Regions from separate parts of the Homo sapiens genome. Here all the other regions are reported to be linked to region 1. Evidence: microRNA targets listed by miRTarBase, many of them from high-throughput screens and not tested one by one. Region 1 holds a microRNA gene; each other region holds the end of a gene's coding sequence. Distances are between the middles of the regions.

Region 1 (4,606 bases):
CAGATTTTTAGTGTATTGTCATCAGAACAGGTAGCAATCTAAGAGGGAGTACCAAGAAGGGAATTAAGAAATTTCAATCAAGATTCAAAATACATTAAAAAACAGGTGTGTCTTAAGGCCTTGTGACTGGATAATTATTTTGTCTAATAAACAGGATATAGAAAATAATATCTTAAAGATCATGTACATCCATTTCTTGCTTTCAGGAATCATTCCAGATTTCCAACAAAGCTGACTCTTTAGTTTATTCTTCATATACATTCTACTAGTATGTCTTTTGTTACTGGTCATTTCTTATCTAATCTAAAGTTCTGGCTCTTTATCATCTTCTGTATAAATACAAAATATGTAGTTAAGACACTCTTTTTACTCTTCTGTTAAATGATCAATCAGTATATGTTACCAACATTCAATTTCTACAACTTTCTTCTGAATTCTGCATGTTGTGCCACATTGCTAAAGTAATGGCACCATTTGCAAGATCAGACTTGGCCCATGACTCTAGTAGGCTGTGACAAGTAGAAGGAAACCATTCCTTTTGAGATTCTTTTTCAGATAGGTAGAGGAGCAATCTGGGAAAACAACAAGTTCCCTAGGCTGAAAGAAGTTAAAAAATAACCTTTGTCCCTTTAAAAATATCTGACTATTCTAGATCTTGGTCCCAAGCCTTTTATGGCAGAGAAAGTCCAGCTTGAAGAGCTTGTGGCAAATGGCCACTGGTACCAGAGCTGTTCCCCAGCATTTGTTTATATAATTTCTCTATTTCAGTCACTAAAGAGAAAGAAAAAAAGAATACATGTTCTCTTAAGTCTTGGCCCCCAAGAGACTGGCAGCTTTTTCCTTTCCTTACTGGGAGGCCAAAAGAAGATACACATATTTAACTGTTCAATATGAAATGTTTGGAATCTCACAGTTCTTCTATAGTTTATTAACAATAGTTATTTGCAGAGCACCTACTATGTGTCTGGTAGTTTACATTCTTTATCTTATTTAATTCTCACACTCTAAAAGCTTTGTACTCAAATAATCTCATATGCAAAATGGGAATAAAGTTATTTGCCCAAAGTAACCACAATCAAATGGAAGAGCTAGAATTTAAACCCAGCTTTCTCCTATTCCAAATGCCAGACATTAAAAACACAAAAACAACACAAACCATATTTTACTTTCCTAATTCTAGGCTTGGGATGAAATTATTTTTAAGACTTAAAAAAGTAGCCAATAAATTAGTATAGGTAAACAGCCCTGCTATTTCCTTTGAGCACAGGAAATAAGGATAATTAATATATGATGTTTGAGATGCATAGGGGTAAGGATAATATATGACAATTGAAAAAAAGATAACATAATTAACTGAATAATTCAAAAATCATTCAACTTAGTAAGTCCCATGAAGATGCAACCCTCCATGTTAAAAGAAATTACATGGAATCTCAGAGGAAAAAATATCATTAATATGTAATTTTGGGTGATTAAAGTAATGACTTAAAAAAAAAGAAAAGGTCTGCCATGAAGTTGAGCACAGAAATGGTAACAATAAGGAGAAATCCACAGCAATACTGGAAGCTAGCAGGGATGCCACAAATAGACCAGACCATGAGAAGTTTCTGGAAGATAAAAAACAGATGGGAACAATAGGCAACAAAACCTCAAAACGTCATACGTGAAAGGGGAGACCTCCACAGAAATAAGATTTCCTGTAGAACCCAGAATAACTCAAAGACCAGAGGCAATGGGGTTTGGGAGAATGACTGGAACTTGAGCTACTATTATATGCAATTCCAATAGATACATAGTTTTTAATGTTTCTGGCCTTTCTACATTTTAGGGTTTTTTTGTTTCTTAAAGTGTCACTATAAAAAAATTAAAAGGTGGGCATATTGTCTTCTTTCTGGAGTATCTAAAACATTTCAGACCTACTTACATAGTTTAAGCAATAGATAACCTAACATGTTAAGACTTCACAGTTACCATTTTGTTAGCCATATGTGAAAACCCAAATTGGGCTGTCAAGATGTTACCTTTAATATACTACATTGATAATATCTAAAAAGTAAAAAAGACTAGTTCTCACCTTAGATTGTATTTTTATCTTAGATTTTAATAGAAAATTTTAATTAAGTTAACAACTTAATCCTACATTTAGGAAAGAAATAACTGTAGGGAACCAGAAATCTATCCTTATTTCACAGGGCATAATACCATTATGGTATGGGTAGAGAAAAGCAGAATATGCCTGAGTAATGTGAATATAGATCCTGGATGGCCTTTAGGTCTTTAAAATCTCAACTTAAACATAAAAATTTATATCATTCTCAAAACAAACCTTAGAAAAACCTACAAACCTGTGATCTACATTTTAAACCAACTATAGAGATTCATTTACAAACCTTTGTGAAGTCAGATGGACACCAGCACACAGACGTGACCTCTTGAGAATGACCCAGGAGCACAGTAGGAGGTTGCCAGGGTGTGGAGACCTAGTCCAATCAAAAACAAACAAGTCAGCAAAGCAATATTAGATTTCCCAGATAGAGGCCTTTGAATTCAGAAGTGTGTCTTAGAGAGCTTTAGGATTGTTACCAAAGGCCACTAGACCTGCCTAGCTATAGTTAGGAAAAAAAAAACAACAGATTTCCAATGGGCAATGAAATATTTCTGTTACTAATCTGAGAAAACACAATGAAAACAGTCAAAATAAGTAAATAACATGAGCTTACACACAAGGATAGTCCTTATTTCATATCAGGACAACCTAGCCATATATATTTTGACTAAAATTCAAGACTGGCATTGTCCCTTATTCCTTAGGTGGTAAACTTTCTGGAAGGATGTTATCCATCCTTAAGTAGTCAACTCGACAACTCAGTCCTGTTTTTACACAGCATATATATCTTCAGATCCCTAGTCAGCTACTTCTAGGAACACTAAATTAACTGTGAAACCTGAAGATTTCTGAAACATGCTACCAGCTCTCTTCGGACAAGATGATGGTCTTCCTTCCAAAAGAAGACCGTCCTCTTGTCCCAACAGAGCTGGTCACTAACTTTTACAAAACCCAAAGTTATACTCCTTCATTTTGAGTTGGATAACCTTCATTCTGAAGGGGTATAAACTATATTTTACATGGCACTTTGGTATCCTTTCTGAAAAACATTTTTTTCCTCTAAAACTATATTTCAGTTAATTTTCTGAGAGAAGTTTTGAATTTTCAAGTAAGTGTCACTCGCATTTTAATATATTTTAATGCAGAAAGAAGGGTCACATTGTACTGTCCTGTACATGTGACTAAGAATCATATTTTTCCATCATCAGATGCCACCAGTTATGTACATTTGACAGCATCATACAGCTGACTCATTCAAGAGATGTCAATCTCTTTCATAGGCCATGGGAATTAATCAGCACAATAACGAGTACAAACACACATAACTATTATTAGCATGTGTGTTTCAAAAGAGCAAGGAGGTTGGGGCTGAGAGAAGTTATTCTCTTTTCATTTTCCTGAGGCTCTGAATCATGGCTCATTTGTATGAAGAAAGTGGAGGTGACTCTGGAATGATTATTTGTGAGAATGACTAAGTAAACTTAATAGATTCCCCCAGATTATGGTTAAGAGATCTGACACACTGACTGATAAGGTTATTCAACTCAATCATTAATACTCCTCTCTTGGCTTAAATGGTACATATGCAATAATTAAAAAAGCAAAAGAAGACAAAGAGCAGAGTCTAACTTGTCTTGCAGAGTTAATTAAAATTTATCAGAAAGGAAGCTTTTTCCACATCTACAGGAATCTCACTTACTGCCTACTCCTACAATGGCACAGAGATAATTCATTCTTTCACAATGTAACATATTTTAGAAAAGACTTTGAAGATCGTCTCTAACTATCCCAGTAGTCACAGAAATTTTCCTTTCCTCCTCTGTTTGGGATGGCCCCAGTCGATTAAGTTTCTCTTCACCCAAGGTCCAAACAGGTCTGGTAGCAGCAAATTAGAAGGGAGAGGAAATCCTCAAGTCCTACTGAGCATCCCTGGTAGAAATACATTATTGTCTTCCATTGATTCACCCTGCTTATTGCCTATAGCTTTTTAATTTCATGATATTGGTCCTTTCTCAGTTTCTGTATTATAATACCTAGGAGAACCTAAATGTGTACACCAAGGGTTAAAATAAGTTTCAAAAAACCCCCTAAATACCCACCAATAGAATATATGCACATTTTTGCATTTATCTATAGGGTTTCAGAGAAAAAAGAAAGAGACCCATTAGAAAAACATTTTGGAATACGTTAACAAGGTATCAATGACGACAGTAAAAGTCTAAGCCAGGCACTTTACATAGCATTAAAAGTGGGGGGAAGTTTCCTCAGAAAGTTAAACAATTATATGACCCAGCAATTCTATTCTTAGGAATCGAATTCTGTTCCTACACTCCCAGGAGAATTAAAAACCTATGTTAAACAAGAACTTATACACAAATGTTCACAGCAGCTTTATTCATGTCAAAAAATGGAAACAGCTCAAATGTCCATCAACTGATGAATGAATAAACAAAATGTGGTCTATCCACACAATGGCATATTATTCAGTCATAAAAAGGA
Region 2 (4,606 bases), not on the chromosome of region 1:
AAAGAAGAAAAAACATCAGAGGTAGTAAATGCTGCATAGAGTTTAAAAAGGATAATATGATACAGAATCACAGGATGGCTACTTGAGATTGTGGGCCTGGACATGAACACGGCCTCTTTGAGGAGGTGGTGATAAAGTGATACCTGATGGAAAGGAGCAAACCTGGAGAAGGAAGCTCAGAGACAGGAAGCGGGGGTGAAGGGAGGGACAGGAGGAAGAGAATTCTCCACTGAGGAGAGTAGGGCAAAAGCAAGCTCCAGGTGGATAAAATGAGATGCTGCATGTGGAGTCTAGCATAATGGTTGGTGGGTAGAGAGAGAGGAAAAGAGGGAAGTAGTTGAACAAAAATTAGAAGGGAAGGAAGGAGGGAAGGTGTGAATGAATGAGAATCTCAAATCCTGTAGGGCTGAGCTCTCTAGGGGACTTTACTCATCCTTTTAATCTTGCTTTGAACTGCATTTTCTCTTCTCAGTTGCAATTACTACTTTGCCCTGTTCTGCTTATAAGAGGAGCTACTATTAAGAGCCTAGTGAGTCAGATTCATTATAGGTTTTATATAAGTTCCCTTTAATCCTTACAACCTGAGGCAGGTTATTATCCTTATATGCTTGTTTATGGGTGAGAAAACTGAGGCTGAGAGTGTGTAACTTGGAGAAAGATGAAACATCTAGGTAATGGTAGAGCCAAAACTTAAATCCAGGCTGGTCTGATTTCAGATCCATGCTCTTGACTGCTACACTATAGTGCTCCTCAATTAGACTGCTCTTTAATAGTTTCTACATTTGTAACAGCTGTTCATTCCACTCAGTCCATCTTGTTCTTCATTATTTAGCTATCTCTGTGATACACCAGTTTCTTCTGCTAGCCAGATGTAGAAAAGATCACTTCTTCTTACAGAAACATTATCTCTTAGTTATAGAAGGCATCTTAATATAATAAATAAGGCAGAGGCTTTGAAGTTGACTGGGCCAGTATGGAATTCAGGTTCTGACACTTTTCTCTGTGACCCTGGGCAAATCATTTAGTCCAGGTCTCACCTTTCTTATCTGAAAAGTGGGAATATTATTTCTCTTAATAGCTGACTGAAAATTAAAAGACATAAAGTAAGGAAAGTCCCTAAAATAGCATCTAACAAATGGCAGGTGCAAAATAAATGGCTGCTTAAGAAACAAAAACAAAACCTTCCTCTCCTCTTACAGATAGGAAAACTGATTTGGAAATGTCTTGCTGAGAGAACAGATGCTCTATTTCTCTATCCAATTTCCATGATTCCAGCATCCCATGACACAAGTTCACTGGAACTACTAAAGGCATTCTGTTAATGTGATTTCTGCCTGAGTCAGCTCCGGCTGCAATAATAAAATATCATAAACTGGTGGGCTTATCAACAAAAGAAATCTGTTTCTCACAGTTCTGGAGGCTGGAAGTCTGAGATCACGGTTCCAGCACCACCAGGTTCTGGTGAGGACCCTCTTTTGGGTTGCAAATAGTTGACTTCTTATTTTGTCCTCACATGGTAGAAAGATAGCTAGAGAACTCTCTGGGATCCTCTTTTTAAGGGCACTAATCGCACTCGCAAGGGCTTCAGCCTTATGACCTAATTATTTCCTAAAGCTTCACTTCCCAATACTATCACATTAAAGACTAGGATGTCAACATACGAAGTTTGGGGTACACAAACATTCAGTCCATAGCATTGTCCTTAAAAATGTCCACTCAGGCTGAAAGATATTTCTCCACCTGAATTAAAGAAAAAGAGGTAATGTTTCACGATTCCAGATTTGTAAAACAGGGATAATAATGCCGGCATTTTAGGTTTGTGAAGATCAAATGTAAGGAATATGAAAGTATTTTAACATATATGAAGTGACTTATAAATTCTATTATTAAACATTCTATGAAATGCCATAAATAAAAGCTAGGTGACAAGGCGGCCAGATTACTTGAGGCCAGAAGTTCGAGACCAGCCTAGCCAACATGGCGAAACCCCATCTCTACTGCAGATACAAAAATTAGCCAGGCGTGGTGGCGTGTGCCTTTAGTCCCAGCTACTCAAGAAGCTGACGCAGGAGAATTGCTTGAACCCAGGAGGTAGAGGTTGCAGTGGGCCAAGATCGCACCACTGCACTCCAGCCTGGGCTACAGAGTAAGACTCTGTCTCAAAGAACAACAACAACAAAAAACCCCACAAAAAACTGTTTTGCTAAGTGAAAAGAAGAATAATTGGAATTTTATAACGTAATTGAAATTAAAGGGATTTTGAAAAATGGGAGAAATGATCAGAAACAAGAGAATGGAGTTCAAAACAAACACAGGACATTTAATAAAAAGCAGCAAATGACTTATAAATACTGTTTATTGTAAATGCAAATAAAATTGAGGACTGTGTTTACTACAATTTTAAGGAAAATTGAAAAAGATGTAGATGAGAAATTAAAAATAATGCTAAGGATTAAGTTTAGATTAGGTTAAATTTAGTGTAAGAGAGTGAAAGCTTCTATGCCAGGGTGCTGTTAAACAGAGCTGGGTAAACCGTTGCCTTCACATGGTGTGCTTTGTGACTCCCTGCTGACCAAAAGTATTTGGTCACCCTTTACCATCAAATGTTACAGTGTCTGAAATTATACCTGCAGACCAAGTCTTCTAGGCTAAGGTTAAATATCCCTAATAAGGGACCTATTTAAATTGAGGTTTCAGGACCTGATTATTTCTTAAGACCACAATGGCCTTGAAAGCAGGAAGAATGAGCTCAAGAAAGGAAAGGGAAACACACACTCTACCCTTTTCTAAAAAAGATTTTTCAATGAAAGTTACATTTTCTGTACTATACCACCACCCATTAACATTACAGAATGCAGGGGGAGCTTACCCTGATTTGCAAAACTTACCACATCTTTTGAGTTCCAAGAGGAATATAAATCATCTATTTATAAAACCTTTATTAAAATATATATTTAAAATATATATATTGTCTTTTTCATGAGTTATTTACAGGGAGATTTATTCCAATTTTTGAAACAACACAGAATACAACAAAAACAGGCTGGGTGCGGTGGCTCATGCCTGTAATCCCAGCACTTTGGGAGGCCGAGGCAGGTGGATCACAAGGTCAAGAGATCAAGCCCCTCCTGGCTAACACGGTGAAATCCCATCTCTACTAAAAATACAAAAAATTAGCCGGGTGTGATGGCACATGCCTTTAGTCCCAGCTACTCGGGAGGCTGAAGCAGGAGAATCGCGTAAACCCAGGAGGCGGAGGTTGCAGTGAGCCAAGATCGTGCCACTGCACTCCAGCCTGGGCGGCAGATCAAGGCTCTGTCTTTAAAAATAAATAAATAAATAAAAGAATATAACAAAAACACTTTAAAAGAGAACAATGCATTTTAAATATATTTCCTGAAATAATATTCCTTAGAAAAGATACAGGGTATTTAATTACCTAGATTTTAACAAAATATTCTTTATAGAAATAATTATAGTCTTTACCACAGAGTCACCAAATCTGTACCCAATCAAAACAGAGTCAAATAGACCAGCTCTCATTCAACTCCATTAGGAAACACCAATTTCACATAGTACTTCTCTTGATGTACAGCAGCAACCTCTGCTGGAGAAAAAAGGGTATACTTCTAATAACAAAGCACTGAGCTCAAACCTGTTTTGAACAGGAAGAACTGAAAGTTAGATTTCTTTCATTTCCTGTTAAACCAACACCTAAGTTAAAATTATTTTCAAGGTCTTAAAGACGCACGGGCCTTATCAAGTATATCCTTTCTGATTTTTGGATAAGTTGGATGTGCTTCAAGAACCTGCAAAACAAATAAAGAACCCATAAAAACTTGTAACTAATAATCAAAAACTACGGAGTTACAAAACTTATAAGAAATGAGCATTACAGTTAAGATTTCCTTGTACTAATACTACAACAGCTATAACACTTTTTAATGGTGGCATTTTAAATGTAACATGATGACTCCTTTATATTAATGGTAGTTAGATGAGAACAATAGAATGTAAATATCAAATGCAGAAAATATAACAAACAACTGCTTACCTAATAGATGAATTGTATAAAACAATTATGTATCAATGATTTAAAATATTTTTGTAATTTAGCTTTTCATTCATAATATCTGATAAACCCTTAGAGAGTGACTTTTATACAGCAGCACACATTAGCTTTACCTGAAATGATCTTGAGACATACGTATTTCTAGTTCTACTGAGTCTAAGAGTGGGGAGATGCTAGTTTTTTTTTTTAACTCCAAAAATGATCCTAATATATAGCCTTACATTAACACACAACCCTAACCTGACTGAAATACTGCTTTACAGAGACTCAGTAATCAACAGCAATTACTAAGGCCAAGTATTTACTGTAATGATGCTAACAGATTGCTGTGTGGGATAAGGGGCATTACAAAATTCTTTTCTAATGAACTTTTCTTGGAGGTCCTTACAATGTTTAATAGAATGTCTTATATGGAATATCAATGGGACAATGTATATATAAAGAGACTCTACAAATTCTAAAACTGTAATTTAAATATTTGTCATTTTAGTAGGTGATCATTTACTAGGGGATGAATTACAGAATGCAATTGAA
Region 3 (4,606 bases), not on the chromosome of region 1:
TTTTCCTGTGTGTGGTAGTGGAATCGACAACTTCTGCCTATGGCCCCTTCTCAGCATTAAGCAAGCTTGTAATGGCATCCCAGGTGTCACTCTGGCCCTTAATTACAGGCTCTCTTCTGGTTTGTGACTTTGTCCTTTTACCATTTGAACTGAGACCCATCCTCTGCCTGCACACCTGATGTAATCTACCAGCCATGAGTGAAGTCTACCCTTGGAAGACTGATTGTGCTCAGTTCGGCTCTAAATAAAATCTTTCCATTAACTCTGGCTTCCAGTGTTTTGTACTCTGGGAGAACCAGTCCTCCAAGGGAGAGTTTTGTCAGCCAGCTGAATTGCTGCTTCAGTGACAAAATGGAATTCACTCAAATTGTTCTGAGCTTTAGGACAAAAGAAATGCCTGTCATCTTCCTGATAGTGAACTTAGCAAAGCACCGTTTAAAAGAATGGCTCTCATCACTCCCGAGTACCTTGTCATTACTGCTCATCTGTGCTAAGTGCCACTGTCTACTTCTGATCCCCAAAACAGTGGCCTCTAGCCTTTCCTTCTGCCTAACTCCAAGTAGAGTGTTCTTTTTATAATCCTTCATGTTCATATAACACTTTAGCATTTACAGAGTGTTTTCACATGCTTATTTGTGAGGTATTATCACAGTGCTAGAAATAAGGAAAGGCTGAGACCTACCAAAATGACAGTGTTGTACGTGAGCAGGCTGAGCCTTGAAAGCAGGACCTCTGTCTCCCACATTAGCGCTTCATTCCATCACACCTCTGCAAGGACAGGTAGCCTGCTGGGGGGCCATGGTGGCACTGGGGTATAAAATCTCTAAACTGCTAATATCCTCTTTTCCTTCTAGGCTGAGAACATCTCTAAGGACCTCTACATAGAAGTATATCCAGGGACCTATTCTGTCACTGTGGGCTCAAATGACTTAACCAAGAAGACTCATGTGGTAGCAGTTGATTCTGGACAAAGCGTGGACCTGGTCTTCCCTGTGTGATGTTGACCATCACTGCCATCACATCACCTTTTTTTAAGTAGTAAGAATAAAGCCACTGTATGATTCTCTTAATAGCTATACATTAATCCTGTTTTTAGTGCTGACTGGGTCAGCCTTCCGGGAACTGGAGTCTGTCTCTTTCAGTGCTTTTTTGTTTGTTTGGTTGGTTTTTTTTTGAGACAGTCTCACTCTGTTGCCCAGGCTGGAGTGCAGTGGCGTGATCTCGGCTCACTGCAAGTTCCGCCTCCCGGGTTCACACCATTCTCCTGCCTCAGCCTCCCGAGTAGCTGGCACTACAGGCACCCGCCACCATGCCCGGCTATTTTTTTTGTATTTTTAGTAGAGACGGGGTTTCACCATGTTGGCCAGGATGGTCTCGATCTCTTGACCTCGTGATCCACCCACCTTGGCCTCCCAAAGTGTTGGGATTACAGGCGTGAGCCACCGCGCCCGGCCTCAGTGCCTTTTTTAACTTGAGGGTGTAGAGGTCCTCCACGCTTGTTTGCCTGAAAGTAATATAATGATGCTGTCTGAACAGGTTTTACTGCTTGCTTTCCAAGTAAAGGTTAATTATGATAATAAAGAGATTTGGAAATGAAGAGAATTCATTTTTATTAAGAGGTGAAACAAAATGTCACTCATGTACAACTAGGCTTTATGGGAAGGTGGCAGAGTGGCTGTGGACACATTTGCCCAAAGCAGGCTGACCCCCTCTTCCACGGAAGAGGCATCTTAAAGCAGTTTCACCAGGGCCCTGGCAGGGAGCCCCAGGGCAGGATCCCACATTCCTATAGCCCTCACAACAGGTGCCTTCCTGCTGCTTATCTGCAGGGAGGTCTTCGTGGGGTGGAGATACTGGTGGTTATTTGACTGTTACCTGTGGCCTGTCCTCTGCCTCCTTCCGTTGAAGAAGGCCTTGTCAGCCACTCTGTATAACTCTCCTCGAATATTTACCATGTTTATTCTTTACCTATAAAAGGGGGAAAAATTCCATACATTGTTATGCTGACTGCAATTTTAAGAATCAAAAGTCACTGATTTTAAAAAGTCATTGATTGTGGCCGAGTGCGGTGGCTCATACCTGTAATCCCAACATTTTGGGAAACCAAGGCAGGAAGATCACTTGAGCCTAGTAATCAAGACCAGCCTGGTCAACACAGTGAGACCCTATCTCTACAAAAAGTAAAAAATTTAGTCAGGTGTGGTGGCATGTGCCTAGCTACTCAGGTCCTAGCTACTCAGGAGGCTCAGGTGGGCGGCTCACTTGAGCCCAGGAGTTCAAGGCTGTAGTGAGCCATGATTATGCCACTGCATTCCAGCCTGAGTGACAGAGTGAGATCCTGTCTCAGAAAAAAAAGTCATTGCTGTGTCCCAAATGTCTTGAAGCTGCCACAGCAGAACTGTGACATCTCCCAGTTTCGTTGCCTGGTGATTCTCTCATTTTGAACACAAACCTTTCCTTGGGAAAGGTGCCAGTATTTTATATAATGGAAATAAAGTTTAAGTAGGGCTATATTATCATTCTTAGTGAGGAATAGACTCCATATTCAGAGGGCCTAATAAAGCAGACCCCTACCCAATACCATAGAACAGAGGGTCATTTAAACGGGGATCCTTGCACCCCCAAGAAGCCTGTGATTAAATTCATGGGTTCCATAAGCCTTCTGAAATTACATGCAAAATTGAGGGTATGTGCATTTTTCTAGGACAAGGGGTCATAGGTTTTACTGTTCTCAAAGGGGATGTGACCCAAAAGGTCTAAGACCCATGTGAGGAGTCCTTAGGAAGCCCCTTTCCAGCCATTCTGCTTTACCTAGATCCTCAGGGCTCTTAGTCTAACGGGAATTCTTGTTCCACTGACATATTGCAAGGCTCTGACTCCGCTTTCTGTGTTCAGCTTCCCCTGGCGGGGTCCGCGGTGGCTTCATGTGGGTTGCTTTCGAGACCAGCTCCTTGGTAGTCCCCACTACTGCAGTTTGTGCTCTCTGCTGTTTGTGATCCTTTTCTTCTTTGCAGATGTTGGAATATCTTGTTCCTAAACCCAAAAGTCAATTACTTAGGTTGAATATGCCACCATTTTGATGGCATAAGTAGAACTAAAACAAGGATCACTGAAGTATCTGTAAGCTCAAGCATTGTTTTCTTTTCATTTATTATGTATTTGAGACAGGGTCTTGCTATTATCACCCAGGCTGGAATGCAGTGGCATGATCATAGCTCACTGCAGCCTCAGCCACCCGGGCTCAAGTCATCCTCCCACCTGCCACCCGCTCTTCACTACAGCCCCCAGTAGCTGGGACCACAGGCGCACACCACCATGCTCAGCTAATTGTTTAGTTTTTTGTAGAAACGGTCTCACTATGTTGCCCAGGCTGGTCTTGAACTCCTGGGCTCAAGAGATCCTCCAGCCTCAGCCTCCCAAAGTGTTGCAGTTACAGGTATAAGCCACTACACCTGGCCTGTTTTCTTTTGCCATCATGCAATGTGTCCATGTAATGTTTTCTATTTTTAGAGAAAAAAATTGTTATCATTTCTGGACCTTATGCTTTTGGGAAACATTACCTGATACCCAAGATTTGGAGTTGTGAAGAAGTTATTGGATGTGTCTTCTAAACTGCCAGTAGGGCAAGCAAAGGTAACTGACTGCCACCAGTTAAAGGAGCTTCGACACCTTCACTGATCACTGATAACACAGACCACAAAGAAGAGATTACAAGCTGATAGAAAACAAATATTAAGAAATTGAACTGGGTGCATTGGTGCACACCTGTAGTCCCGACTATTTGGGAGGCTGAGGTGGGAGGATTGCTTGAGCCCAGGAGTTTGAGGCTGCAGTGAGCTATGATCGTGCCACTGCCCACCAGCCTGGGTGACATAGTGAGACCCTGTCTCTAAAAATAAAAAAAAAATTGGGGCAAAACAAAAATAATGGGAGATGTGACTTCCTGAGGAATAGACCAATCTAAAAGGGAAGGAATGCTTTTTACGTTTCTTTTAAAACTACAGATTGAATCCTGTTTCAGTCAAAGGAGGCAGAAAGTACCTCCCTGCCAGCAGCTCACAATCTGGCCTCCCTAGGACTATTAGGATCTAATTGGAACCTCTCACTGCCTGTAACTGAAAGTAAGGGAAAGTGTGGAGGACAGAGAAACCTATGCAAGAGCTTTTGTGAGAGGCAAAGCTCAAAATTGAGTGTCAAGCATCAGCACTCGACAGAACGGATATCAAGTCCTGATAGCAAGAACTGATTAAACATCAAGCATGTTTAGGAGAAGCAAAACAGCACATTTCCTTTAAAAGATACAAAACCTGGAGGGGAGAAAAGCAAAGCTCTGGTGTTTGCCTTGTTTCAGCCCTGACCCTGGTTTTCTGTGCTTCTCTTCACTAGTGAGCAGGTAGTCCCACACATGTGGTGAGGGCGGGGGATGGCCATGTCTCCACACCCCCTCTCGGGCATGCTCTCCATATATTTGGGAACATACTGATGATGCTCATGGGTCAGCCCCAGGAACTTTCCCTAGAGCATAACACAAGATCCAGTATTTAACAGGAAAGCCCGGCCAAGTACCTGAAGATACTATAGTTATCTTCTTTATAGTCAATTAATA
Region 4 (4,606 bases), not on the chromosome of region 1:
TTTGTGAACCACATGAATGGATTACCTATTCAAAACATTAAGAAAGAAATATTCAGCACTGAACAACCAAGTCAGAGTTCACTGTGGGCAAAGGCAGAGATGACCAAGGAAGAAAGGGGCCAGGTGAACCTGGGCCTCAGGGAAAGCCCCTACAGCTCAGGAAGCTTTTTGGCTGAGGTTCTGTTCCTATCAATCATGATGGCAGAGGAGCCCATGTAACCCAGATGATGTTATGTGGTATCAGCAGCCCCCATGACACCAGGCCTGCTGCCTACCAGGCTCTGGGCACCAGCTAACCCCCACAAGAGGTGCCAGGGACGTTACTACAATCCCTGGGTGGTAGCTAAGGAAGCTAAGGAAGAGACTGAGAGGCTAACCTGCAGAAGGGCCTAAGGCTAGTGAGTGACAAGAGGTGATTCCATCACTCTCTGCCTGGAGCTCTGGGTATACTGCCCTGGATGTATCAGGATGTATTTCATAATGCCCAAAAAGCCTCTGAGAAAAATAATTCCTAGTTGTTCAAAGTAGCTTAGAGCGGGATCAGGCCAGGGAGATGACATGATTTTGAAGTGGGGTTGTGAAAAAGGACAAGGCCCGAGGCTATTTCTCTGATGGATCCAAGGGGCTTGGCACTGGGGAAAAGGATCTTCTTGTCAAGAACAGGGTATCCGGCAATGGTGGGAGGTCCCCTGTATCCCTCAGCTCAGACCTTCCCAGGGGCCACCTGCCCCTATTTGGCCATTTCTGTCCTGCCTTCCCTGGCTAGGCAAGCATAGGCTTCAAGGACCTTATCTGCCAGGGACAGGCCTAACCAAATCACACGTGGCAAAGAAAAGCAGCAGATGTCAACTTCCTAGTGTCTGATACTGACCCAACCAGGAATCAAGTCAGGCTGGTTTTGTTCCCTGTTTCTGAAGGCAGTTGAATTCAGTTGTACCCCTAGCAACTACTAATGGTTCAGCCACCCGTGGAGTCCAGTTGGGGCTGAGTTATGCTCCACTAACCCATAGCAGACCAGCAACATTCTATCTTTGAGCTGCTTAAGAAACACACAAAGGATACCAGCCAGTGGTCCAAGAGCAGACCAGAATCCCCACGCAGCTACACAGTAACAAGTCCCAGCAACTCCTGAAGATAGATGCGGAAAGGGTGACTTTACCATGGGGTTCGAGTCTGAGCCAAGAGAGTTATAAAGGGGTCCCTAACTCATTCCTTTTTCAAAATAAATAAAAAAAGGACTGTCTTTCAAACAAAAACCCTGCGATTTTAATGAGAATTAAAGGAGGATGTAAATTAAAAGGCCTGTTTGTCTGTACAGCAATGCAGATGCGCAGGCCCATCCTGGTGGAGGACCCAGATGCAGGGAGCAAATATTCGGGTTGTGTTGCTAAGAGTCGCAGGAACTACTGCTAGTGATACTAGGCTTGCTGCAGGAGGATGTCACGCTGAGAAAGGGAGATGACTAGGAGCAGAAAAAGTACTCTCACTGTTCCAGCTTCCAGCCCAATCCTAGCAGAATGAATGCATTTTAAAACCAGTCCACATTCACATGTGCTGAGAAGGTTGTTAGTGGTCCCTCATCTGGGCAAAGCAGACCCAAGGTGGTGCTGAGTGCAGAGTGCAGAGCATTCTTGTGCTCTCCTCTCATGGCTGGAACTATCTGGGCTTTGCGCCCTGGTCCAGTGCTACGTATCAACCCCCTCAACATGCCTGTGGCTCTGACACGGGGGGATGAATTAACTTGCCTCTGTTCAAATATACAGACTTGGTGAGGCTGTCTTTTGTTAGTACTGATGCACAGGGACAGAAAAAGCCTGCAACTTTCAGTTGGGAGAATCCTATAAAAGCTGTGAGCAGCAATAATTTGCAGTATTGATCATAGGAAGGGAAAAAACATTCTCTTTCCTATTAGAGCCCCATAACAGAGGTGACATCTGTCCCAAGGCCATTCCATGGAAAATGGTGGCTGCTGGCAATTAGTGAGGCTAGTCCAGAAGCAAGCCTCCTTCTGATATTGGTCACTGAAAACAGCTCACTATAAACGGGGTGTTTTGTGGCATTCAACTCTGTTGTGCTACAAATAGAGAATGCAAAAAGACGGTGAAAGTAGGAGTGCATAAATAGTTTTTTTCATGGGTGCCAGACAGGCTAAGGCTTTCATATAAAAATATTCCTCACTTTCCTCGTCCTGTTTAGGAAGCAGTCCAGTTGGCATACCACGAATAGGTCACACATAGGAAATGGCCTATTTTGACCAACTGGATTTGTAATTTTCCAAACCGGATTCTGTCCAGCACTGTTCTACACTAATGGAAATTTTCCTCCTCATGCCCAGCCATCTGAACCAAGGACAGGTTCCTTCTCCTAAGAGGACAGAGGTTGGATTCCAGAAAAAAATCCTGGAGTCATGCCAAGAGCAGAGTAGCAAAGCTCCCTCCATCCATTCTCCATGTCACGCAGACTGTATTCCTAATGAAAAACTTCCCCCACTCACACCTGTGGGATGGAGTGGAGCAAAGCAGTTGACGAGGAATTGAGGCAGGCGCTCCTAAGATGGAGGGAGGCGGAGAGCAGGGCTGTGGAAAAGAATTTTCCATCTGACCTGCTACTTTCCATAGCTAATTTATACAATATTCACAAATCTTAATGGACTTTGAGTCATTTCTAGAAAAGTTGGACAGAAAGAGCCAAAGAGCAGCATGCGTTTCTCTCCTATAAAGACACTTTCACTTTCAGTTTCGGAAGTCCAAATACTGAGGCACACACCAACGGTGGACAGCCCTGCAGGAGCTTCCTGAAACTATCTACAATTCCAAGTGGATCACCAGCTTCAGAATTACACAGGGATCTTATTTGGGATAAAGTGTTAAAAAGTGAATGACAGGCTTTTTTTTTTTTTTTTTTTTTTTTCTGAAGTAGAAAGAGAGATAGGGCAAGAGAGAGAAGAGATGGAAGGAGGGGGAGAGGCCAAAGGGTCGGCATTCCCTTCATCCAGCCGGGCCAGAAGTATGGGCCATTCTCAAAAAGCCACTGCTCTTTGGAGCCACTCGAGAGGTTCACAGTGGCTCCCTTCTGAGGCAGTGGCAGTGGGCTCACAGCAGCTACACTGGAACCACAGTGCACATGTGGGGATGTGGGCAGCCTCCTGGATCACTCAGGGACAGTGTGGACTCAGGGCCCACTCCCTGCTGGGGCTCTGGACGGGCCTTACTGGTGCATAGGAGAGGGAAATGATAAGAGGAAATGGCTTCTGACTAGGCCTTTCCAAGCGCATCTCATGTTTTCAGCTTAGATGATTTGATAGCAGGTGTTGTAATCCTGAGGGGGAAATGGGTGACGAGGAACACTGCTACTCAAAGCCAAGATGGCCTTATCAAAGGCATACAACATGAGCCTTGTGGGCACTGCCTCACCAACCACTGGTGGCTGGTTGTGCTGGTTTTACTTGGCTCAAGGGCTGCTGGGAAGGTTTGCTGCGACAAAGGCCTGCATGGCCTACAGAGAAACCCATCCATCCGCAGGTGGGGGTGTGGCTTGAAAGACCTGCTCTTAGTTCCCTTCTTTACCCTCCTGCTTGACATGGAGATGAGGCTCCAGGAGAGAGAGTGTAATGGAGTTAGTAAGAGACCCTCATGAAGTTTCTTGAGGCAAACCCGCAGGCTCATCCACTCCTCTTCTCTCGGCAGGGGGTAGTGTCAAAGTGCTTTGGTTGTCACAAGACCCAGACACCTAGGTTCCCAGTTTGGCTGGCCCAAGAGTTCTTCATGAGGCAAAAGAAGTGGCAGCTGGTGTCCTAGGTAGAGAGCAGCCATACAGACACCACATGTGTTCCTCCTGGCTCCACACAGACGTCGTGTCCAGCAACAGTCTGATCCTTGCGGTAAGCTATACAATGTTCTCTGCCCCAGGAAGGGGCCCCTGAGGGGGTCCACGGTCCTGCTTACTGTGCAACTGGGCCAGCTGTAGAACTGGCATGTTGCACAGGGGACACACTTTACGAACCTCCAGCCACTTAATAAGGCACCTGCAGAAGGAGACACCACAGGGGGAAGATGTCAGTCCTATGCTCATGGCACGGCTGTTCTGCTGAACATCTCCATATCTGTCACCCAGACAACGTCTGCTGTATGGTCCAAGGAGCTCCCCTCCTAGGTGGTGAACGGATGTCACCCCCTGGAGAGAGGGAAGAGACAGAGAGAAGGAGTGGGGAGAGGCCAAGGGGTCAGCAATCCCCTCTTCCTTCCAGAGCCTCCCATCTTCCACGTGTGAAGCCACAGATAGTATGTGATACTCTCAGTTACCCATGACTTCTTACAAGAACAAAATACACTGAGCAGGGATGTGAGAAGTAGGAAAATAAATTTTTCTAACAGAAATACAAAACAAAAAATTATAAGAGGAAGAATATTAATATGTCTGCAGGAAGTGGGAGGAGAGTGCCCCACACTACCATTTATATCCAGACTTTATTTTGATTTTAAATAACTATGGTTTTGATTTAAATAAGTTTTTAGGAGATGAGGCTCTCAGTGGAAAGTTCCAGCTAAATAGCTGTTTATTGCTTGGGCTCCAAGTGTAGGCTCATTTTGGCTCTCTGCCCATAGTC
Region 5 (4,606 bases), 200 Mb from region 1:
CTCGACCTTCCAGGCTCAAGCAGTCCTCCCACCTCAGCCTCCTGAGTAGCTGGGACCACAGGCATGCGCCACTATGCCCAGCTAGTTTTTGTATTTATGGTAGAGACACGGTTTCGCCATGTTGCCCAGGCTGGTCTTGAACTCCTGAACTCAAGTGATTCACCTGCCTCGGCCTCCCAAAGTGCTGGGATTACATGCGTCAGCCACTGCACCCGGCCTCAGTCTTTTCTTCTATGCGGCACAACCCTGGCATGCATAGTGCGTACTTACACAGGTTTTGTTGCAGTAGGTTAACTTATGTCCCTTGAAATGTAATTGCCAACTACACTGACAGAGTCCTAACATAGTTTATGACGTGGCTTTGGAGTTCCCAACAACAGTGACACGTGGGAACCACTGTAACGACCTGTAACAAATGACTCCCATAGGTCACTTTGCAAGGTGGTGAGTATGAGGCATGGCAGGGGTCATAATCTCAGGAGACTTCAAGGGCCCCACCGCTTGCACATCTGTGAAGCAGGCTGGTCATGATGGGAGCTGAGCGCTGAGCATGTGCCCTGTGGAAGGACATTTTAGTTCAGATGCCAGCTGGCCCAAGCCCTTTTTGGAGCTAACCTTGTCCCCTTGGCCTCCAGTGTGTGAGCCCTCGTTAGCTGTTTATCCCAATCAAGCTGTGTCTGGCTGTGCACTATCCAGGCCTCCACATTCTGTGACAAACTAACAGGGCCGGCTCCTGTCACTCCTGTTCTCGCCAGCGGGTTTTACCCTGAAGGTGACTCAGGCCTTCTCTTTGCCCTAGATCGTGGGGATCATCACACGGCACAACCTCACCTATGAATTTCTGCAGGCCCGGCTGAGGCAGCACTACCAGACCATCTGACAGCCCAGCCCACCCTCTCCTGGTGCTGCCTGGGGAGGCAAATCATGCTCACTCCGGCGGGCACAGCTGGCTGGGGCTGTTCCGGGGCATGGAAGATTCCCAGTCACCCACTCACTCAGAAAGCCGGGAGTCATCGGACACCTTGCTGGTCAGAGGTCCTGGGGGTGGTTTTGAACCATCAGAGCTTGGACTTTTCTGACTTCCCCAGCAAGGATCTTCCCACTTCCTGCTCCCTGTGTTCCCACCCTCCAGTGTTGGCACAGGCCCACCCCTGGCTCCACCAGAGCCAGAAGCAGAGGTAGAATCAGGCGGGCCCCGGGCTGCACTCCGAGCAGTGTTCCTGGCCATCTTTGCTACTTTCCTAGAGAACCCGGCTGTTGCCTTAAATGTGTGAGAGGGACTTGGCCAAGGCAAAAGCTGGGGAGATGCCAGTGACAACATACAGTTCATGACTAGGTTTAGGAATTGGGCACTGAGAAAATTCTCAATATTTCAGAGAGTCCTTCCCTTATTTGGGACTCTTAACACGGTATCCTCGCTAGTTGGTTTTAAGGGAAACACTCTGCTCCTGGGTGTGAGCAGAGGCTCTGGTCTTGCCCTGTGGTTTGACTCTCCTTAGAACCACCGCCCACCAGAAACATAAAGGATTAAAATCACACTAATAACCCCTGGATGGTCAATCTGATAATAGGATCAGATTTACGTCTACCCTAATTCTTAACATTGCAGCTTTCTCTCCATCTGCAGATTATTCCCAGTCTCCCAGTAACACGTTTCTACCCAGATCCTTTTTCATTTCCTTAAGTTTTGATCTCCGTCTTCCTGATGAAGCAGGCAGAGCTCAGAGGATCTTGGCATCACCCACCAAAGTTAGCTGAAAGCAGGGCACTCCTGGATAAAGCAGCTTCACTCAACTCTGGGGAATGCTACCATTTTTTTTCCAAAGTAGAAAGGAAGCACTTCTGAGCCAGTGACCACTGAAAGGTATGTGCTATGATAAAGCAGATGGCCTATTTGAGGAAGAGGGTGTCTGCCCTTCACAAACACCTCTCTCTCCCCTGCACTAGCTGTCCCAAGCTTACATACAGAGGCCCTTCAGGAGGGCCTCCTGTGCCGCAGGGAGGGTGCGTGGGGAAGATGCTTCCTGCCAGCACGTGCCTGAAGGTTTCACATGAAGCATGGGAAGCGCACCCTGTCGTTCAGTGACGTCATTCTTCTCCAGGCTGGCCCGCCCCCTCTGACTAGGCACCCAAAGTGAGCATCTGGGCATTGGGCATTCATGCTTATCTTCCCCCACCTTCTACATGGTATTAGTCCCAGCAGGCATCCCTGGGGCAGACGTGCTTTGGCTCAAGATGGCCTTCATTTACGTTTAGTTTTTTTTAAAACCGTGGAGGTTGCCCACGGGCCTCGGCACCTGGCCCTGGCAGCACAGCTCTCAGGCCCAGCCCTGGGCGACCTCCTTGGCCAAGTCTGCCTTTCACCCTGGGGTGAGCATCAGTCCTGGCTCTGCTGGTCCAGATCTTGCGCTCAGCACACTCTAGGGAATAATTCCACTCCAGAGATGGGGCTGCTTCAAGGTCTTTTCTAGCTGATTGTGGCCCCTCCATTTTCCCCATTTTCTTATCTCCCTGACCAAAATTGCTTTGACTTCTAAATGTTTCTGCTTCCCAGAATGCACCTGACTTATGAAATGGGGATAATACTCCCAGGAAATAGCGCAGGACATCACAAGGACCAAAAAGGCAATTCTTATTTAAATGTTACTATTTGGCCAGCTGCTGCTGTGTTTTATGGCAGTGTTCAGAGCTTGATCACGTTATTTCTTCCTTTTATTAAGAAGGAAGCCAATTGTCCAAGTCAGGAGAATGGTGTGATCACCTGTCACAGACACTTTGTCCCCTCTCCCCGCCCCTTCCTGGAGCTGGCAGAGCTAACGCCCTGCAGGAGGACCCCGGCCTCTCGAGGGCTGGATCAGCAGCCGCCTGCCCTGAGGCTGCCCCGGTGAATGTTATTGGAATTCATCCCTCGTGCACATCCTGTTGTGTTTAAGTCACCAGATATTTTGTTCCCATCAGTTTAGCCCAGAGATAGACAGTAGAATGCAAATACCTCCCTCCCCTAAACTGACTGGACGGCTGCCAAGGAGGCCCCAAACCCAGGCCCCATGCAAAGGCACGTGGTTTCCTTTTCTCCTCTCTCTGCATCTGCGCTTTCCAGATAAGCCCAAAGACAGCAACTTCTCCACTCATGACAAATCAACTGTGACCCTCGCTCCTTCCATTTCTGTCCATTAGAAACCAGCCTTTTCAGCATCTCACCCATTAGCAGCCCCATCACCCAGTGATCAGTCGCCTCAGTAAAGCAGATCTGTGGATGGGGAGCCTACGGGTGGTAAGAAGTGGTGTTTTGTGTTTCATCTCCAGCTTGGTGTTCCATGGCCCCTAGGCGAGGTGATCAGGGAGTGGGGCCAATGGGCCCCCGGCCCTGGCTTTGGGACCTTGTGCTGAGGGATGATTTGCTCCTGACCTTGATTAACTTAACAGTTCCCAGCTGGAAGGGACACTTTCAGGACCCAGTCCACTGTATGGCATTTGTGATGCAGAATTATGCACTGACATGACCCTGGGTGACAGGAAAGCCTTTCGAGAGGCCCAAGGTGGCCTCGCCAGCCCTGCAGTATTGATGTGCAGTATTGCACCACAGCTCTGCGGACCTTGGCCATTGCCGCAGTCGCAGCTTCCTTTTTTCTGTTTGCACTGTTTGTTTGTATGATGTTAGCTAATTCCACTGTGTATATAAATTGTATTTTTTTTAATTTGTAAAATGCTATTTTTATTTGAACCTTTGGAACTTGGGAGTTCTCATTGTAACCCTAACATGTGAGAATAAAATGTCTTCTGTCTCCTCTGTCTCCTTTAGCCTTTTGTCTCCATGCTGCTTTCTTTCTTTCTTTCTTTTTTTGAGACAGAGTCTCGCTGTCACCCAGGCTGGAGTGCAGTGGTGCCATCTCAGCTCACTGCAAGCTCCGCCTCCCAGGTTCACGCCATTCTCCTGCCTCAGCCTCCCGAGTGGCTGGGACTACAGGCGCCCACCACCATGCCTGGCTAATTTTTTGTATTTTTGGTAGAGATGGGGTTTCACCATGTTAGCCAGGATGGTCTCAATCTCCTGACCTGGTGATCCTACCCGCCTCGGCCTCCCAAAGTGCTGGGATTACAGGCGTGAGCCACCACGCCCGGCCCTGCTGCTCTTTCTTTCAAGGGATACTTGCTTTTTATTTTACTCCCCCTCTTTCTGATGTGTGGAAATTACACTAGGACGTAGTTTTAGAGTCTCAGAGCTCTCCCTATGCAGCTGGGCAGTGGGGCTCTTCATTCTTGCGGGTCCACTTCTCTGTATTAGACAGTGACCTTAATAAGAACAGATTTCATCCTGTGGATCTTAGCAGAGGTCACCGTTGTCTGTTTCTCCCTTCAGATGAACACTCTTCCTGATCCTCTCCTCTAGAATTCATCTCCTCCTGCTAGCAGCCGCGTCCTGGAGGAGCAGCGGATGGGGAATCCATTCTGTTTCTTCCTGGTGTTTAGGAAGTTGCCCCACACACAGATTGCCCCGATGTCCAACCAGAAGAAGTGAAACTGCTGCTGGGTCTGGAGAGGTGAAGACCCGTGGCCAGCTTCTGTTGTTGCCATCGGCCATTGCTTTTTGTTCGCTTGCTTTTGG
Region 6 (4,606 bases), not on the chromosome of region 1:
GGCCGAGCCGGGCTACCTGGTGACCAAGGTGGTGGCGGTGGACGGCGACTCGGGCCAGAACGCCTGGCTGTCGTACCAGCTGCTCAAGGCCACGGAGCCCGGGCTATTCGGCGTGTGGGCGCACAATGGCGAGGTGCGCACCGCCAGGCTGCTGAGCGAGCGCGACGCGGCCAAGCACAGGCTGGTGGTGCTGGTCAAGGACAATGGCGAGCCTCCGCGCTCGGCCACCGCCACGCTGCAAGTGCTCCTGGTGGACGGCTTCTCCCAGCCCTACCTGCCGCTCCCTGAGGCGGCACCGGCCCAGGCCCAGGCCGACTCGCTCACCGTCTACTTGGTGGTGGCGTTGGCCTCGGTGTCTTCGCTCTTCCTCTTCTCGGTGCTCCTGTTCGTGGCGGTGCGGCTGTGCAGGAGGAGCAGGGCGGCCTCGGTGGGAAGCTGCTCGGTGCCTAAGGGCCCCTTTCCAGGGCATCTGGTGGACGTGAGCGGCACCGGGACCCTTTCCCAGAGCTACCAGTACGAGGTGTGTCTGACGGGAGGTTCCGAGACAAATGAATTCAAGTTCCTAAAACCGGTTATCCCTAATATCCAGGCAAAAGGTCTTGGGAAGAATAGTGAAGAAAACTCCACCTTTCGAAATAGCTTTGGATTTAATTTTTAGTAAGAATGCTATTTACATTTGCATGTACTTTTTTAGTTTTATGTAACCATATCAATATTATTTAGTCTTAAACTAGTTACGTTATTATGCAATACGACTAATTGTATTTTTAATTTTTTCTTTTCTCCCCCAATTTTTTTTTTTTTTTTGAGACCGAGTCTCATTCTGTCGCCCTGGCTGGAGTGCAATGGTGTGATCTCAGCTCACTGCACCCTCCGCCTCTCGGGTTCAAGCAATTCTCCTGCATCAGCCTCCCGAGTAGCTGGCATTACAGGCGCCCACCACCACGCTCGGCTAAATTTTTTTTTTTTTTATCTTTAGTAGAGACGGGGTTTCACCACGTTGGCCGGGCAGGTTTTAAACTCTTGACCTCATGTTCCACCCGCCACGGCCTCCCAAAGTGCTGTGATTACCGGTGTGAGCCACTGCGCCCGGCCTTTTTTTTTTCTTTTCTTTTCTTTTTTTTGATACAGAGTCTTAGTCACCCAGACTAGAGGTCAGTGGCAGGATCTCAGCTCACTGCAACCTCTGCCTCCTGGGCTCAAGAGACCAGCCCACCTCCGCCTCCAAGTAGCTGGGACTACAGGCGTGCGCCACCATGCCCGGCTACTTCTTGTATTTTTTGTAGAGACGGATCGTCACCATATTTCTTAGGCTGGCCTTTAACTTCTGAGCTCAAGAGATGCACTCCCCTCAGCCTCCCAAAGTGCTGGGATTACAGGCGGCCAGGCCTATTTTCAATTTTCAAGTATTGCATATCATTGTGAATAACATTGTAAATCCTTTTTATATTAAGTAACAGGTAGTTAATCCATTTCTAATGAATAATTTTAAGGTTTTAATCCTTTCCAAGTGTACAATAATTTACTGATTATTATTTCTTATTCTAGAAAACTGACTTTGATTTTTCTCTTAGGTTGTTTTGTTTTGTTTTGTTTTTTGAGACGATGTTTCACTCTTGTCGCCCAGGCTGGTGTGCAATGGCGTGATCTCGGCTCACTGCAGTCTCTGCCTCCCGGGTTCTCCTGCCTCAGCCTCCCGAGTAGCTGGGATTACAGGTGCACCACCACACCCAGCTAATTTTGCATTTTTAGTAGAGACGGGGTTTCACCATGTTGGTCAGGCTGGTCTCTAACTCTTGATATCAGTGATCCGCCCGCCTCAGCCTCCCAAAAAGCTGGGATTACAGGCGTGAGCCACCGTGCCCAGGCTCCCCTAGTATTTTTCACTGTCTGCATCCTATGATCCTAACCACCTGTGTATTGTAGTTTCTTCATGGGAGAAGTCATATCTGCCCTTCCAACCTTATTCTAACATTCTATTTATTCATTTAAAAAGCCACATCATCTAGTTCTAAATCACAGCATTTAAAGAGAAACATTTCATTATTAATGTGCTCATGGTAAATTAAATATTATTTTGTGATCAATATTATACTTCAATACTAACTTTGTGCTTGTATTATTTTCTTAAATATACTACACTTACTTGGCTAATATTTTTAATGCTTTTGTGTGTGTATATATATATATAGAGAGAGAGAGAGATCATGGCTTATAATCCAAACAAAATGTAATAAACTGCATGAAAATAAATAGGAATATTAAAACATTTTGATAATTTTGGGATGAGGATATTGGTGGACTGTTGGAAAGATATTCACTTTTCCTTTTATTTTGTAAATTTATTTCATTATTTTCAAATGTAAAAATCAAGATGAACTAAAGGTTGAAAGAAAAACAAGGCCTGCCTCAGTGGCTTGGCTGGGTGGGTTAGATCACACCTGTAATCTCAGCACTTTGGAAGGCTGAGGCGGGCGGGTCACCTGAGGTTGGGAGTTCAAGACCAGCCTGGCCAACACAGTGAAACCCCATCTACACTAAAAAATACAAGAAGTAGCTGGGTGTGGTGGTGCGTGCCTATAATCCCAGCTACTCAGGAGGCTGAGACAGGAGAATCACTTGAACCCAGGAGGCAGAGGTTGCAGTGAGCCAAGATCTTGCCACTGCACTCCAGCCTGGGTGACAGAGCGATACTCCGTCTCAAAAAAAAAAAAAAAAAAAAAAAAAAGAAAGAAAGAAAAGAAAAGAACAGAACAATATTTTCTTTAATTTCCAGTCTCCTTCTATTGAGTGGCTTCTTCTAGAATTACCTCAATACTTCTAAATGATATGTTTTTGCTGTTAAATCTTGCTACTCCATTTTACATTTTAATCACTTCTTGCTATGTATTTTTTAAAAAAGATTTAACTTTCTTTTCAACTAATGTAAACCAATATAAGCACTGCACATTCCCTTTCTCCTATTCTCCCAATAAAATTGTTACAGTTTTTTTTTTCTTTTTGACAGAGTCTTACTCTGTCGCCCAGGTTGGAGTACAGTGGTGTGATCTCAGCTCACTGTAACCTCTGCTTCCCAGGTTCAAGTGATTCTCCTGCCTCAGCCTCCTGAATAGCTGGGATTACAGGCACCCACCACCACACCTGGCTAGTTTTGTAGCTTTAGTAGAGATGGGGTTTCACCATGTTGGCCAGGCTTGTCTTGAACTCCTGACCCCAGCTGATCCTCCTGCCTCAGCCTCCCAAAGTGTTGAGATTACAGGCGTGAGCCACAGTGCCCAGCCTACAGTTTTTTTTAAGTTAAACTAATAGTGTCCATATTGCTAAGCTTTCTTCAAAATACACATTAGTGTAGTGTGATTAAATTTCCTTTCTTGAGAAACATTTTTCCTAGAACTGAAAATTGTTTTGTACTTACATAATTTTCCATTTACTAATATTAGTTTCTTTACATTCTCTAATTTGAATCTCTTTCTTCTCAAAATATTCAAATATATCAGATACCTGTCAATTATGTTTATTTCTTGGTGATCTTGCACCCAGATCTCTACTTCATTCATACTGGTTGCTCTATAGGCTGTCACCCTAGGACTTTAAAAAATATTTTTCTTTGTTGGTCCTTTTTTATAAGATCCAGTACATTCTTCTTTCTTAGTTTACTCACTTATTTTGTTGATGCACATCTCTCAGTACCTTCATAAAAATGGATACAGAGGAAATAAAACTTTTTGAGAGCTTGCTTTGTTATTTTCTTTTTTTTTATTTGATTGATAGTTTGGGCATAACATTCTAGGTTGAAAATAATTTTCCCTCAGATTTCAAAAGCACTGCTCCTTTTATTGACTGCATATAGAATTGCTGTTCAGAAGACTGATTCCATTCTGATTCCTATGTCTTTTTATGTGATTCCCCCCCTTTTTTTCTTTCTTTCTGTGAGCATTGAAAAAAATTCCCCTGGTCTTCTGAAAATACCTTAGTACTGGCTCTTTATTGATTAATCTGGTTATATCGCTATGCCCTGTTCATGTTTAACTTTTCTTTTTTTTTTAAGATGATGTCTCACTGTGTTACCCAGGCTGGAGTGCAGTGGCTATTCACAGGCACAATCACAGCACCCTGCAAGCTCTAACTCGAGAGCTACTTCTGCCTCAGCCTTCCAAGTTGCTGGGACTACAGGCATGTGCTAGACCCCTTGGCTAATGTTCAGACTATCAATTTTATTTCTGAGAAATTTTGGTTGGGCATGGTGACTCACACCTGCAATCCCAGTACTTTGGGAAGCTGAGGCAGGATTATTTGAGGCCCCGAGTTTGAGACCACCCTGGGCAACATAGTGGGAACCTATCTCTACACAAAAACAATTTGTTAAAAGGAATTTCCTTGGTATGTTTTACTCATAATTTCTCCTCTGAGTTTTCTGGATTCTCACTTCAATGAAAATCTCAGTTAAATATTAGACCTCCTAGATTGACTCTATAAGACTATAAGCCATTTTTCCTTTCTTATTTTCTCTTTGCCTCTCATTCCATTTTTTGGACAATTTATTTAATCACTCAATGTTTTATGTATAAGTTTTTCTTTATGACTGAAAAATATTTACTTTTAAGAG
Region 7 (4,000 bases), not on the chromosome of region 1:
GTGTTGTGTTCATACAGTTCCTGCTGGTTTATTAAGTTAAAGATACTAAATTTCACACAAAACATCTGTTCTATCTAGGTTATATTCACTCTACTTTTAATCTTTGGTAATCTCTTCCAACATGTTTCCTCTTTCCAAGTTTTAGTTGAAGTAAAAATAGCACGTTAGTTCTTTTTGTTTTTGTTTTTTGAGACAGGGTCTCACTCTGCTACCCAGGCTGGAGTGCAGTGGCGCAATCATGGCTCACTGCAGCTTCAACCTCCCTGGGCTCAGGTGATCTCACCTCAGCCTCTTGAGTAGCTGGGGCTACAAGTGTATACCACCACACCTGGCTAATTTTTGTGTATTTTTTGTAGAGGTGGGGTTTCACCATGTTGTCCTGGCTGGTCTCAATCTCCTAGGCTCAAGCAATCCTCCCGCCTCGGCCTCCCAAAGTGCTGGGATTATAGGCATGAGCCACTGCACCCAGCCCTATGTTAGTTTTTTAAATATCCATACACCTCTTTCTACAACTAACTTCTTCCAATCTCTAGGTGAGTCATTTCCATTTGCTTTTCCTATTTTCTTTTTTTGTTTGTTTTTGTTTCTTTTACCTTCTGCCATGATTCTTCATTCCCCAGCTCAGTTGCTTCTTTTCCTACAAAAGCTTCTCAAACAAAGGCCTCAAATTCCTATCTGTTGATACACATTATAAACTCCATTCGAACAAATTTATGGCAGTTTATAAAGAGATTGTGTTATTTTCTATGTCAGAAACAAAGCCTGTTACTATGAACAACGGAAAATGAAATAAGGGCAATAAAAATGAGGCAATTATCAATTGACTTTATTTCCTTTCATATGGTAACACCAGCAGTGTATGATATTTGTAAATAAAATACGTCATAAAAAAATTTAACCTTATTACCTATTATCAGTTAGGTTATACCATCCTGAATAAAAAATATTTGGGCCGGGCATGGTGGCTCACGCCTGTAATCCCAGCACTTTGGGAGACCGAGGGGGGCGATTCACGAGGTCAGGAGATTGAGACCTTCCTGGCTAACACGGTGAAACCCCGTCTCTACTAAAAATACAAAAACAAAATTAGCCAGGCGTGGTGGCAGGTACCTGTAGTCCCAGCTGCTTGGGAAGCTGAGGTGGGAGAATGGCGTGAACCCAGGAGGCGGAGCTTGCAGTGAGCTGAGATTGTGCCACTGCACTCCAGCCTGGGCAACAGAGCAAGACTCCGTCTCAAAAAAAAAAAAAATGGCGTCTGTAACAGTTTCCTGGTATTTTCAACCAGGTTCTAAGAACAAATTGATTTTTTGAAGTGGTGACATCTAGTCACATTAAAATAAAATCCAAATAAAGTAAGTTCAATACAGTTACCACATAATGAATGGTAGAGTTTAAAGAAAATTATTATTAGCATCAAATCAATTGTTATGAATAAATAGTAATTTGATATTACAAGTTCTTTAATGAATACCTTGGTAACTTGCTGACAACTTAAAAGATAATACCACTGATATTCAAATACAGTTTATAATCAAGTCCAGTGGCAGATACTGAACCGCCCACCTCCACCTCAATTTGTGAAAACCTGTCTTTTGTAGGGTTGGCTACCATGGGTAATTACGCAGCACTGAATAAAAAATAGAATATTTTTCTAATACTTCTACAAATATAATAAACACAGTAACAGTTTTTGCTGCAGCGATTTTCTTTACAAAGAATATTTGGGCCCAGTGCTACAGAAAAACATGAACTACATCTTATCGTCACAAAATAGCCATTATAAAATGAATTTTGCAGCCTCTGTTTTTTTGAACTTTGAAATAAAATGTTCAGACAAATATTCAACTTTTTAAAAACCTCCATTCATTGATAGCCTGAGAAATGTACAATGAACATGTTTAGGCAGACTGCTAGTATTTTGCTGTAATGACACAGTTAACAAAGAGAAAAGAAACAATACTGTAAAGGTTTCTGCTTTGCTTTTGGCTTCCTCAAAAACTATTTCTACAAATTTTGGGGAGAGGAGGTGATTCTGAATGTATTCAAGTTAGTGGTAGGCCAGGCAGAGTGGCTCACACCTGTAATTCCAGCACTTTGAAAGGCTGAGGTGGGAGGATCACTTGAGGACAGGAGTTTGAGACCAGGCTGGACAACATGGTGAGACCCTGTTTCTACAAAAAAACTTTTTGAAAAATCAGCCAGGTGTGAAGGGTGGGGTGGGGTGGGAGGCCACACACCTGTAATCCTAGCTATTAGGGAAGCTGAGGTGAGAGGATCACTGGAGCCTAGGAATTCAAGGCTGCAGTGAGCTATGATCACGCCACTGCACTCCAGCATGGGCAACAGAATGAGACTCTGTCACTAAAAAAAAACAATAATAATAAAAAAATAACAGGCTGGGCGTGGTGGCTCATGCCTATAATCCCAGTACTTTGGGAGGCTGAGGCGGGCAGATCACAAGGTCAGGAGTTCGAGTCCCAGCCTGGCCAATATGGTGAAACCCTGTCTCTACTAAAAATGCAAAAATTAGCCAGGCATGGTGGTGCATGCCTGGAGTCCCACCTACTTGGGGCTGAAGCAGAATGGCTTGACCCAGGAGGTGGAGGTTGCAGTGAGCCAAGATCATGCCATGGCACTCCAACCTGGGTGACAGAGCAAGACTCCATCTTAAAAAAAAGTATACTAATGTCCCTCAAGTTCTTCCATATGAGGTAAAGGGATCCAAGATTAAGGTTGAAATTCTTAAACTGTTCAACAATTTTGTGGTGTCATCAAAAAGGAATATTTCATATATATTAATTTAGCCTCAATGATCAACATTGTTAAAAGTCAGTATGGAGAAAGATCATTCTGACCTCTTCAGAAACCAGCTGGTATATGAACATTCTGATCACCAGATTGTTTTGAAAACGTGATCTTTTCACCATCGTCCTTAGGTCACAAAATAAAAGTTCTATTTTCTATGTACTGTATATATACATATATTTAGAAAAATATATAAAAATAAGACAATAAGAGGCAAGTGGAGGTGTGGCTGGCATTTAGTGGGCACACTGAATGCTTAAAGAAGTTCCACATATTGATTCTGAAATCATATAATGTCCTACTTAGGTGGCTACAGTGAACACTGATGTAACAAAATCATTCACATCCTGGTTACTGTTCCTCAAATCCTCCATACCGCGGATATGAATGGAAACACTCTGGTAAAATACTCATCTTAAATGCAACACTTTAAATATAATATATCACAGATTTTTACATTAAATAGAAGAAAAACAATTATACTCTCATTCACCAGTGTCTTATTTTTTGTGGCAACTTCAGAATCGGCACATTACTCCTGCTTTCTGTTTAAACTTCTCGACAGCAGAAGTTGGAACAACAAACAATAGACAATCCGCTGCCTGTTGTATATACTGTGAGTGTTTGGAAAAGCAAGTAGAAAAAAGACTAAGCACTCCTAATGTTCATCCAGGTGCTACGGTCAAACGTTTGAGTCTTCATCTGTAATGCTGGCACTGGGGGAACGGGCAGCAAAATCTTTAAACATGTCATCTTCTTTTAACATGTGCTGGAAAACAAGGAGACAGGGAGTCACACTGAGAGCCAAGAGCTCAGAGCTACACATTCTCCAAGAGACATGTGGTCCTTTGGGGTTGTTATAAAAGACATTTATAGAATAACATTTTCAATTCATTTCACAAACTCACCGTCAGATTGTTGATGCCTTCAGAGAATGCACCTATCTGTCTCACTGTCCCTTCTGAATCTTCCATCTGCAAATAACAAACCATAACATGACATAAGTGTTTTCACAATTTCAGGGAAAGTGCAGCAGGAGGAACAAAAGTCTAAGAAGAAATAATGCAAATAGCACTGAATGGGGTAAGAGCAACAGAACACTTCTGGTGATAATCTCCTTTCACCACTGCAACTGGAAGTGAAAAATTAGAAGAGACACTTTACTGACACAGCTAGTCTAATGCCTTTGCTAATA

What was found. The annotated mature microRNA hsa-miR-3122 reads GUUGGGACAAGAGGACGGUCUU and lies in region 1 at 3,010-3,031, opposite strand. An mRNA with a match to its seed (bases 2 to 7 or 8) in the 3' UTR can be bound and repressed. Matches are read on the target gene's strand: a 7mer-m8 pairs with bases 2 to 8, a 7mer-A1 pairs with bases 2 to 7 and ends in A, and an 8mer does both.
Region 2: miRTarBase lists TTC21B as a target of hsa-miR-3122. Seed matches in the 3' UTR shown: 7mer-A1 at 3,079-3,085.
Region 3: miRTarBase lists AKIP1 as a target of hsa-miR-3122. Seed matches in the 3' UTR shown: 7mer-A1 at 1,411-1,417.
Region 4: the mRNA of RNF24 is a reported target of hsa-miR-3122. Seed matches in the 3' UTR shown: 7mer-A1 at 2,853-2,859.
Region 5: miRTarBase lists CLCN6 as a target of hsa-miR-3122. Seed matches in the 3' UTR shown: 7mer-m8 at 1,950-1,956.
Region 6: the mRNA of PCDHB11 is a reported target of hsa-miR-3122. Seed matches in the 3' UTR shown: 7mer-A1 at 1,052-1,058, 7mer-A1 at 1,358-1,364 and 7mer-A1 at 1,826-1,832.
Region 7: miRTarBase lists PPFIBP1 as a target of hsa-miR-3122. Seed matches in the 3' UTR shown: 7mer-A1 at 2,432-2,438 and 7mer-A1 at 988-994.

What each region holds. Positions count from the first base shown.
Region 1 is chr1:212,076,047-212,080,652 of GRCh38, reverse strand. MIR3122 (microRNA 3122) reads right to left here and starts at 3,040; the gene lies at 2,968-3,040. DTL (denticleless E3 ubiquitin protein ligase adapter) reads right to left here. Exons shown (of 15, transcript NM_016448.4): 12 at 2,391-2,480; 13 at 1-38.
Region 2 is chr2:165,871,024-165,875,629 of GRCh38, forward strand. TTC21B (tetratricopeptide repeat domain 21B) reads right to left here. Exons shown (of 29, transcript NM_024753.5): 29 at 2,339-3,809. The coding sequence ends at 3,732. It overlaps LOC100506124 (a long non-coding RNA gene), which reads right to left and starts at 918. Exons shown (of 4, transcript NR_045375.2): 1 at 1-918. RefSeq lists an enhancer at 3,531-3,730.
Region 3 is chr11:8,918,483-8,923,088 of GRCh38, forward strand. It overlaps AKIP1 (A-kinase interacting protein 1), which reads left to right. Exons shown (of 6, transcript NM_020642.4): 6 at 855-1,597. The coding sequence ends at 998. It overlaps C11orf16 (chromosome 11 open reading frame 16), which reads right to left. Exons shown (of 7, transcript NM_020643.3): 6 at 2,812-3,033; 7 at 1,594-1,968. The coding sequence ends at 2,834. Among named protein-coding and RNA genes, the nearest start is that of AKIP1, 9.6 kb to the left of the region's middle.
Region 4 is chr20:3,930,178-3,934,783 of GRCh38, forward strand. RNF24 (ring finger protein 24) reads right to left here. Exons shown (of 6, transcript NM_001134337.3): 6 at 1-4,024. The coding sequence ends at 3,886. Among named protein-coding and RNA genes, the nearest start is that of MIR103B2, 15 kb to the left of the region's middle.
Region 5 is chr1:11,839,344-11,843,949 of GRCh38, forward strand. It overlaps CLCN6 (chloride voltage-gated channel 6), which reads left to right. Exons shown (of 23, transcript NM_001286.5): 23 at 800-3,787. The coding sequence ends at 880. It also overlaps NPPA-AS1. Among named protein-coding and RNA genes, the nearest start is that of NPPA, 6.1 kb to the right of the region's middle.
Region 6 is chr5:141,201,511-141,206,116 of GRCh38, forward strand. PCDHB11 (protocadherin beta 11) reads left to right here. Exons shown (of 1, transcript NM_018931.3): 1 at 1-2,269. The coding sequence ends at 658. It also overlaps PCDHB@. Among named protein-coding and RNA genes, the nearest start is that of PCDHB11, 4.2 kb to the left of the region's middle.
Region 7 is chr12:27,692,370-27,696,369 of GRCh38, reverse strand. PPFIBP1 (PPFIB scaffold protein 1) reads right to left here. Exons shown (of 30, transcript NM_003622.4): 29 at 3,714-3,779; 30 at 806-3,574. The coding sequence ends at 3,488. It overlaps MRPS35-DT (MRPS35 divergent transcript), which reads left to right. Exons shown (of 5, transcript XR_001749448.2): 4 at 3,828-3,888. Among named protein-coding and RNA genes, the nearest start is that of REP15, 2.1 kb to the left of the region's middle.